Linked DNA regions of Homo sapiens: region 1 is linked to region 2. A link means that fine-mapping ties the variant in region 2 to the expression of a gene that starts in the linked region. Tissue or cell type: whole blood. Region 2 holds a variant in brackets; the other region holds the start of a gene. All regions are shown on one strand. Distances are from middle to middle.

Evidence for each region. PIP is the estimated chance that this variant, and not a neighbour inherited with it, causes the effect.
Region 1: TMEM35B starts here. The variant in region 2 is fine-mapped to the expression of TMEM35B in whole blood (TOPMed, PIP above 0.99).

Annotation. Positions count from the first base shown.
Region 1 is chr1:34,983,062-34,988,292 of GRCh38, forward strand. It overlaps TMEM35B (transmembrane protein 35B), which reads right to left and starts at 2,286. Exons shown (of 3, transcript NM_001195156.2): 1 at 2,137-2,286; 2 at 706-886. The coding sequence starts at 2,244. It overlaps ZMYM6 (zinc finger MYM-type containing 6), which reads right to left. Exons shown (of 16, transcript NM_007167.4): 16 at 3,104-5,231. The coding sequence ends at 4,043. RefSeq lists silencers at 1,845-1,914, 1,975-2,264.
Region 2 is chr1:35,042,210-35,047,440 of GRCh38, forward strand. No RefSeq gene overlaps it. Among named protein-coding and RNA genes, the nearest start is that of ZMYM6, 13 kb to the left of the region's middle. The variant G/GTAGT (reference allele first, on the strand shown) is at 3,151.

The DNA.
Region 1 (5,231 bases), 59 kb before region 2:
GTTCTCCAGCTTCCCTGCTCTCTACACCAATCTGCCAGACACATGCATCAAATGGCAGCTGCTCCTCCATCCCCTCATCCTAGGAGTGGATGTGTGGAGGAAGGAGCAGAGGCGCTGAGCTTGCAATATATCTTCACAAGGCAATACTATGCAGCCATTAGAATTGAGGAGGTAGAAGGTACACTTAACATGTGATAATGTTCTAGCACATTAAGTTTAAAAAGTACCTGTGCTAGGCCGGGCATAGTGGCTCAAGCCTGTAATCCTAGCACTTTGGGAGGCCAAGGCGGGCAGATCACGAGTTCAGGAGATCGAGACCATCCTGGCTAACATGGTGAAACCCTGTCTCTACTAAAAATACAAAAAAATCAGTCGGGCGCTGTGGCAGGCGCCTGTAGTCCCAGCTACTCGGGAGGCTGAGGCAGGAGAATGGTGTGAACCCAGGAGGCGGAGGTTGCAGTGAGCAGAGATAGTGCCACTGCAGTCCAGCCTGGGCGAAAGAGCGAGACTCCATCTCAAAAAAAAAAAAAAAAAAAAAAAAAAATACCTGTGCTAGTTTGAAGACCATGGAAACTGTGGTAGAGCAGAAAGTGCTCTTGATCCCAGAGAAAAAAGAAGGGTGGCAACAGTAAGGGGGAACAGCCAGGTCTTTCCATAATCCTCCCCCAGAAGACCCCATTTTCTCAGGCCAGTTGGCCCCCTTACCCATCATGAGCAGAATCAAGAACAAGTTACTGATCTCTTGCAGCATCGGTGGGCCCATGACCAGCAGCAACCCAGCCAGCAGTTCCAGAAAGCCCACAGCTATTTGGTAGTTCAGGGGATCTGGCTGGTAGCCAAATACCTTCAGCGGGAACACCTCAGCAAACTGCACGAACAGGGCATTCTAGGGGTGGCAAGGAATGCCTGTTAGCCTCATTGTTCAACAAGGATGAGCTCCCCAGATGCTCCATGGCATATCTATGCCTGTGCCCTCAACTTCCCAGAGAAAAGAACTACTACTCTAGGTCAGGTCCAGGGCTGAGGTCAGCCTGAAGAGGAGAGGGCTGCCCTGTGGCGCTGAGCTTTGGAATCAGGAAACAGGCTCCATGCTCCAAGTGGTACAGAGATTGATCTTCTCACTAGACCTCTCAAGAGATTACAACCCAGCCCCAAATCCCAGGAGGAGGGGGCTGGGCTTGGCTCCCTAGTGCCAAGGCCTGGGGAATTCCACAGTTTCCTTCTTTGTGTCTGGCCTGGTTTCTCTTAAGGCTGCTGTACAGGGAATATTTGGAGGTGAGGCAGAGTTAGGTGGGCTCAAAGTGACTCTTCTTGTCAAGGCAGGCCCTCCCCTGAGCCAAATGACAACTTCATCCTTACTTTCGGGGATACTTTTTCCTGTTCCCACTCCTCAGCTCTACCTCCCCTCCTCAGCTCTGCTGGGAAGCAGCTCTAAGCTGTCTGTCTCTGGGGATTTATCCAGGCCTTGGAGAGAGATGCCAGCAGAGGTCTACAAGTCTGGCTCTTTTGAGGGACTGGGGAGATTGGTGAACAGGATATGAAAGCTTTCCCATGAGTCTGGAACTAGACAGAAGGCTGAAAGACGACTTCAGGGCATCCCTCTCAGGCTTCCGAGAGAGGCTTCCCTCTCTGGGTTCCGAGTTAGGAGTGTCTAGCTTGTGTCCTGCTTCCTGACTAGATGTGCAATCTTTAGCAGATATACTTGCCCTTCAGGGCGGGCTTCCTTCCCTGCAAAGCCAGGATTACTACACCCCAACCCCACGAACCTCCCAAAAACTGAAGCAAACGGCGAAAAGAGGGAAGAGAGCGGGAAGTGAGCTCATTTTCCCACCGCATCATCCTCCCCCAGGGTCCGGGGGGGTGGGAGGGACCTCCTAAGGCTCTAGATTTGCCTGGGGCCACCAATATTCTGCAGGAAGGGGAGGTTCTGTCCCCTTCCGTCTAGGGAAGATCCAGAGAACTCGAGGAACTCCCCAGGCAGGACCTGCGCCTCAGTCGAAAGCCAGGCGCTTTCCCCCAGCTCCAGCTGAGCCTCGGAAGCCCGAAGGCGGCCTGCCGGGCCGGGGGCGAGGAGCGGCAGGGCGGAGCACACGCCGCCGCGGGCCCGATCCCCTGCCGCCCGCCCGCGCCGCTCACCATCCGCTCCGAAACTGGAGCCGAGATCTCCTCCGAGAGCTTGGCCAACCCCACGAGCGCGAAGAAGCCGCCCAGCAGTACACGCAGCACCGAAAGCAGGAGCGCCATGGCCGCGCTCCCCCCACCGTGGGTTGGCCCCGCCGAAAACCCGCCCCTGCCGCCGGCTCATTTCCTCCCTCCCCGGGGCAGCCGGAAGACTCTCGCCTGAGCTACCGTCCCCCACCCTCCAGGGGGTCGCGAGGCTGCAGTACTGGGGCAGGGCGCCCCCATCTTACAGGTGGGGACACTTGAGGACCACTGGCTGGTAACTGACTAAACAGGCACCTTTGGATTCAGGGAGTGTTTCCCAGCCAATACGGAGTGCTGGCAGACACGGGTGGGTGTCTGGGTGCGGTTCAGCTACCATCAAAAGACCCCGGGCTTCGTTCCTGCCTGTGCCACACTAGCTGTGGGATCTGAGCTGTCACCCACCCCAAAGGGCCTCAGTATCTGCATCTGTATATGGGGATAACTCAGTTCTCCAGAGTTTGTAACAGGCCTAGCACAGTGCCTGCACATGTAAGAGCTCAGAAAGTTATTTGTAAATTAGTAAATTAATTTATAAAATTGTAATAAATCAATAACCATTAATTATTAAATAAGTCTCTTTGCCTGAGATATCTTTTCCCTCTAATTTATCTCGGCTGACAATGAAATGTGAAAGGTGTTTGAAAATTCAGATACTTGCATGGATAGAGAGGCTTTCACTGAACCAAGCCCTACAGTCCACTCCTGGCCCATTTGCTCTTACCTGGAAATCTGTCTAAAGCTGGGATGGGCAAACCATGGGCCAAATTTGGCCAGATGTCTGATTTTTTTCCATGCTTCTCCCCTTCCCCCAAGCTAATAATGTTTGTTTACATTTTTTATGATAAAAACATTTTTTAAAGAAGCTTGTGTGACATAGGAAAATTATATGAAATTCATATTTCAGTGTTCATGAATAAGTTTTATTTAAAAACAGCCACACTTATCTGCATATTGTCTATGGCTGCTTTTGCACTGCAACTGCAGAATTGAGTAGTTGTGACAGTATGGCCTGCAAAGCTGAAAATATTTACTATCTGGCTCTTTATTTAAAAAGTTTGCTAAGCCCTGGTATATTGGGCCAGAAAGGCCCCAAGCAGGGGTCTCAAATCCCCCTGCTGCTTCCATTTATAGTTACCCAAGCTGCTTAGATCTATCTTTTTCCAGCTGGGCACGTTGGCTCACACTTGTAATCCCAGCACTTTGGGAGGCCGAGGCAGGTGGATCACTTGAGGTCAGGAGATAGAGACCAGCCTGACCAATATGGTGAAACCCCGTCTCTACTAAAAAAAATACAATAGACGGGCATGGTGGCACATGCCTGTAACCCCAGCTACTTGGAAGGCTGAGGCAGGAGAATTGTTTGAACCTAGGAGGCAGAGGTTCCAGTGAGCCAAGATCACGCCATTGCACTCCAGCCTGGGCAACAAGAGCAAAACTCCATCTCAAAAAAAAGATCTATCTTTTCCACCTACTCACAACCTTGCAGGGGTAAGTAGCTGGTTGGCTAGAAGACTGAAATGTTCCACTTGCTTCTAAAGGCCAAGCTGTTTCAACATCCAGGTTGTGCTGTTACATTATAAACTGGGCTTCTCATTACCTGCAGTCTTTGTCACTAGTCCAAATTTAATGAAATAACTAAATTTTCTACCCTAGATTATAATTATACATAATTATTTATAACAATCATAATTATTAAATTCCTCAACAAAAAGGGAAAAATTATTAAAACATTTAATCACTGAAAACACAAATCCACATTAGGAAATTATCTTTTAGGATACTTATACAAAACTTAACACAGGATTATTGACTTCACTGTTAAGCAATGTGCATATTGCTACTCTTTCTCCTTCACTAATTTTTCTATCCTTGGAATTAAAGATGTGACTGCAAGTCTTAGGGCAGGGCCAGAACCCAACAGATTTTTTTGTTTTGACTCAGTCAAAGCTGAAAAGGCAGCATCACATAAATAAACAGTTGAAAAGGGTAATAAAAATTTCATTGCCCTTTCATGGAGTTCTGGGTAACTTGTCTTTGCATTTATCCAAAACTGAGTTACAGACACTGATTTAAATAGTGCTTGTAATCCTAAATCTGAAGATAGCTCTGTTAGCTTTTCTTCTTCGAAGTCGGTGAGATTATTATTTTGGTGATTCATAAAAGGGTGAATTATCCACAAATTTCCTGAACGCAAGTCTTGTTCTGGTGGAAAACAGTCACTGAACACTTGAGAAAGTCCTTCCAGGTGCTCAAAAATAATCCTTGTGATGTCTGTCATATTTAAGCCTGATGAATTTGAGAATTCAGAAAATGAAGGGAACATGTCATAATCATTCTCTTGTGTGCGCTTCAACCACATTTTTAACTTTCTCTTAAATACATCAATTTTATTACACAAATTGAAGAAAGTAGTCAAAGTTCCTTGGAGACTTAAATTTAATTCATTTATAAGTGAAAATATATCTGATAAGTAGGCCAGCTTTCCAACCCATTCCTCATCATGAAAATACTTGGCCAAATCTGAATGCTTTTGACTTAAAAATATTTCAATCTCATGTCGTAATTCAAATAATCTTTTTAACATTCTCCCTCTTGATATCCAACGTACTTCAGCATGAAGCGGTAAACTCACATGCTCAGATCCCATCTCTTCACACAAAATTGTTAACATACGTGAATTTAATGCATTGCTCTTTATAAAACTTAAAATTTGTGCTGACTGCAAAAGAATTTTATGTAAACATGGAGACAACTTTTCTGCCACTAAACGTTCACGGTGAATAAAACAATGTGTAAATGCCGCTGTATTCATGGCAACTTCTTGAATTTTTGCTTTTAAACCAGAATACCTGCCAGTCATGCTTGCAGCCCCATCGGTACAGAGACCAACACAATGTTTCCAATTCAGAGATTTACTATCAATATATTTATTTATTAGTTCAAATATTTCAAAGCCAGTTATTTGAGTAGGCATTTCAATGCAAAATAATAATTCTTCTTTTACATCACGACAATCATAATCAATG
Region 2 (5,231 bases):
CAACAAAAAAGAAGTCAAAAGATTTGAATAGACATTTCTCAAAAGAAGGCATACAAATGGCAGTCATGATGAAAAGGTGGACATGAAAAGGCGAAAAGATTAACATCATTGATCATCAGAGAAATGCAAATAAAAACTACAATGAGATATCATCTCACCCCAGTTAAAATGGCTTTTATCCAAAAGACAGGCAATAACAAATGCTGGCGAAAATGTGGAGAAAAGGGATCCCTCATACGCTATTGGTGGGAATGTAAATTAATACAACCACGGTGGAGAACAGTTTGGAGGTCCATCAAAAAACTGCAACTAGAGCCACCATATGATCTAGCAATCCCACTGCTGGGTTTATACCCAAAAGAAAGGAGATCAGTATATTGAAGAGATATCTGCACTCCCATGTTTGTTGCAGCACTGTTTACAACAGCCGAGATTTGGAAGCAACCTAAGCACCCATCAACAGATGAATGGATAAAGAAAATGTGATATTTATACACAATGGAGTACTATTCAGTCATAAAAAAAGAACGAGATCCTGTCATTTGCAACAACATGGATGGAATGGAGGTTATTATGTTAAATGAAATAAGCCAGGCACTGAAAGACAAACATAAGATGTTCTCACTTATTTGTGAGATCTAAAAATCAAAACAATTGACTTCTTGGAGATAGAGAGTAATGGTTACCAGAGGATGGGAAGGATAGTTGGGTGGTGGGAAAGTAGGGATTGTTAATGGGTACCAAAAAAATAATTAGAAAGAATGAATAAGACCTAACATTTGGTAACACAACAGGGTGACTATAGTCAATAATAATTGTACATTTTACAATAACTAAAAGTATAATTGCATTGTTTGTAACACAAAGGATAAATGCTTGAGGCAATAGATACTCCATTTTCCATGATATGATTACTACACATTGCATGCCTGTCTCAAAACATCTCATGTATCTCATAAGTATATATACTTGCTATGTACCCACAAAAATTAAAAATAAAAATAATTTTTAAAAGAGGTGGGAAGGCCAGGCCTGGCAGCTCACACCTGTAATCCTAGCACTTTGGGAGGCCGAGGCAGGTGGATTGCCTGAACCCAGGAGTTCAAGACCAGCCTGGGCAAGATACCTCAAAAATTAGCCGGGCCTGGTAGTACATGCCTGTGGTCCCAGCTACTCAGGAGGCTGGGAGGCTGAGGTGGGAGGATTGCTTGAGCCCCAGGAGGTGGAGTTTGCAGTGAACCGAGATCACACTGCTACACTCCATCCTAGGCAACAGAGTGAGACCCTGTCTCAAAAAAAAAAAAGAGAAAAGAAAGTGGAATTAGTTTCCCACCACTTGAATCTGGGCTGGACTGTGACTTACCTTGACCAATCAATTGCAAGGGAAGTGACCCTGTGACAGTTACAAGTGTAGGTTTTAAGAGGATTGGCAACTTCTGCCACCACATAAATAGGTCTGGCCAACCTGCTGGAGAGACCGCATGGAGAGAGAGGGAAAAAAAAGTCCCAGAACCTCCCTGCCAATGTCCCAGGCTCATGAGTGAAGCCATTCTGGATGTTCCAGCCAAGATCCTAGAAGAATGTAGCCACAGAAATAACCCCAGTCAACATGAAGTGGAACAGAACTCCCAGGTTGAGCCCAGCCAATCACCGAATCGTGAGAAATAACAAATTATCATCTTAAGTCACAAAGTTTTGGGGTACTTTGCTATATAACAACAGACAACTGACACACTAAAATAGTTTGCAGCTTTTAGTCTGATGTTATTAACAATTTCCTCTCAGTATGCGTGTTCAGTTTCAAGAATGTTTTCTTTGTCCTTCTATGAAAAATTCCCAGTTGCAATGTTATGTTGTATTTAGATTTCACTGTATAGATTACAGATTTATTATTACTCTTTCTTTTTATTTTCTCCTACCTTGAAAACTAGTTAGAGTACTCTTTCAATTACTTTTCTCAGATAAAGTTATGGATGATATACTGCCTGAATCCCTGATTATTAGTTAATGACTAAATTTCTATAACAAAGAAACCCCAAAATGCAATAGCTCAAGCAAAATTGAAGTTTATTTTTCTCTCATGTTGCATTTCAGAGCATTGTTTTAGGACATTCGCAGTTATGCTGCTACACAATCATTTATGGACATAGTATTCCCCCATCTTGTTTCTTTATCATTGAAACTGAGTCACAGGCACATCTTCCTGAGAGTGTGAAGAGGGCACACACTGGTCTTAAGTCACTGGGCTCAGAAATGGCACATAACACTTCTGATCACATTCTATTAGAGACAGCTTAGTCCATGTAGCCACGTCTAACTACAGTGGGGGCTGGGAAATAGAATGTCATGTTTGAGGCTACAATTATAATCCCACAGGAAAGGAGAAGATTGAATTTTACTGGAAGGCTAGCAATCTCCCTAACATCTTGTACAGTATTCACAAAACTGTCATCAATTTGCCCAAGAATGATAGCTATGCATAAGATTCTTGGATTTTAGTTTCTATCACAGTACTGTAGAACAGAAATGCAAAGCTAGTCTAATTCTCTTTCCTTTATAAGTAAAATGTTCTTTTTAATGCCTGGAATCATATAAGCCTTTTTTCTTTATCCTTGTTTCAGTTAGGATTTTCCCCAGTTACTACTCACCCACCCTGCACTATGCTCAGTAACTGGAGAGCTGCCTATCACTTTCCAGCAACTCTTTTTTTTTTTTTTTTTTTGAGATGTAGTCTCGCTCTGTGGCCCAGGCTGAAGTGCAGTGGCACGATCTTGGCTTACTGCAACCTCCACCTCCCGGGTTGAAGCGATTCTCCTCCCTCAGCCTCCCAAGTAGCGGGACTACAGGCACATGCCACCACGCTCAGCTAAGTTTTGTATTTTTAGCAGAGACGGGGTTTCACCATATTGGTCAGGCTGGTCTTGAACTCCTGACCTCAAATGATCCGCCTGCCTTGGCTTCCCTAAGTGTTGGGATTACAGGCGTGAGCCATGGCACTTGGCCTCCAGCAACATTTTAAAAACATTTCATAACCCAATATATTATTTTTTCAGCAAAACTTAGTGATTTTTTCTCCTAAATAGAGTAAATAAAACTAAACATAGCCTCACATCAGTTCTGGTCAGGCTTTGCTGCTAAAAGAGTTCAGGT[G/GTAGT]TAGTTATATTATGCCACCAACTGAATTATGAAAAACTTTCATTTTTAGAGCCTTTCAAATTTCAAGATTGTTAAGTAAGAGACTGTGGACCCGTAAATTTAAGTTTAAACTTTTCCTACTTTCTCATGAAGTTTCTGTTTATGATGGTAAGAATCAAGGAAAAGGTTTTGTTTTGTTTTTGTTTTTGTTTTTTGAGATGGAATTTCACTCTTGTTGCCCAGGCTGGAGTGCAATGGCGTGATCTCAGCTCACTGCAACCTCCGCTTCCCAGGTTCAAGTGATTATCCTGCCTCAACCTCCCAAGTAGCTGGGATTACAGGCATGCGCTACCATGCCCAGTTAATTTTGTATTTTTAGTAGAGACGGGGTTTCTCTATGTTGGTCAGGCTGGTCTTGAACTCCCGACCTCAGGTGATCCACCTGCCTTGGCCTCCCAAAGTGCTGGCATTACAGGCATGAGGTTTTTGTTAATATGCACTTTACATCACCCCTTTTCTGGTGATTTGGGAGCACTACCTTGGTCTGCATATGTGGCTTAAACAAGATGGAAATTTATTTCTCTTTTACATACATAGAAGTTCACAGGTTGTTGGTATGGCAGATCCATAAACATAAAAAAAGTACAAATTATAAGTGTAAAACTCCATGAATTTTGTTATTATTATTATTATTACTGTTATTATTGAGACAAGGTCTGACTCTGTCACCCAGGCTGGAATGCAGTGGCACAATCTCAGCTCACTGCAACCTCTGCCTCCTGGGCTCAAGTGATCCTCCTGCCTCCGCCTCCTGAGTAGCTGGGACTACAAGCATGCACTACCATGCTTAGCTAATTTTTGTATTTTTATAGAGACAGGGTCTCACTATGTTGCTCAGGCTGGTCTTGAACTCCTGAGCTCAAGCGATCCATCTGCCTCAGTCTCCCAAAGTGCTGGGATTACAGGTGTGAGCCACCATACCTGACCAGCTCCATGAATTATTACAAAGCAAATATAGTATTTTAACCATTAACCAGACCAAGATATAGGACATTACTAGCCCTCCAGAAGGCCTACTTCTGAGGAAATGAACTTTGGAATCCTTCTGTGAGTGCCTTATTTTATTTTATTTTATTTTATTTATTTGAGACAGGGTCTTGCTCTGTCACCCAGGCTGGAGTGCCGTGGTGCAGTCATAGCTCACTGAAGCCTTGAGCTCCTGGGCTCAAGCAATCCTCCCACCCCCAGCCTCCTGAGCAGCTGGAACTATAGGGACACCCTACCATGACCAGCTAATTTTTAAAAAAAATTTTTGTAGTGATAAGGACTCACAATCTTTTCCAGGCTGGTAATGATAAATTTTAAATTGGGAGGATAAATAGTCTTCTGGCAACCAGATGAGGGGGTGGACTTAGGGGAAAATTGGGGGAACAATGGTGCCAACACGAAGTCACATGACCCATAGCAAGACCAAGCAAGAACCTGCAAATAGAGGTAAAAGGGCCCAGCTTTGTATCGTGCCAAAACCAACTCCAACACCAAGCTTCTGGGTTCAGGGCAGAAAAACAAGTCAATGCAAGGGCTGTACCCAGAGGCATCTGGAGAAGAGTCAGACAGTGAATATGAACTATCCCAGGAACGTGAGCCCACACAGGATAGTGTTCAGCCAATATTTCAGCATGCCTCCGCTGTAGGTTTATTTCAACCTTCAGAGATTTGATGCAAGTCCCTTCCTCAACCCAGAATGAGGACAAATGCATCCATGGAATTACGTGGACTGAAGCCCTGGTTTGGCCTTGACCACATGCTGGTCCCAGACCTGAGAAAAACTCTCTTGCTACACCTCAGTAGCTACCATCTGACTGCCTTGGGCTCCCCCTCTCTCCAGCAGAGAGAACAATACTCAATCACTGCCCCCACCCACAAACACTCTGGTTATGCCCTAATTCTGTGGGGCCAGAACTGGTTCAGGCTCTAATCCAGAAACTGCTGCTTCCCAGAGACCATAGAAATATTCTCACTCTCTCACTCTCCCTCAGCCTTGATCATAGGTCTCCCACCCATGGCCAGAGCTGACCCAGCTCCTCAGCTCTGCACACACC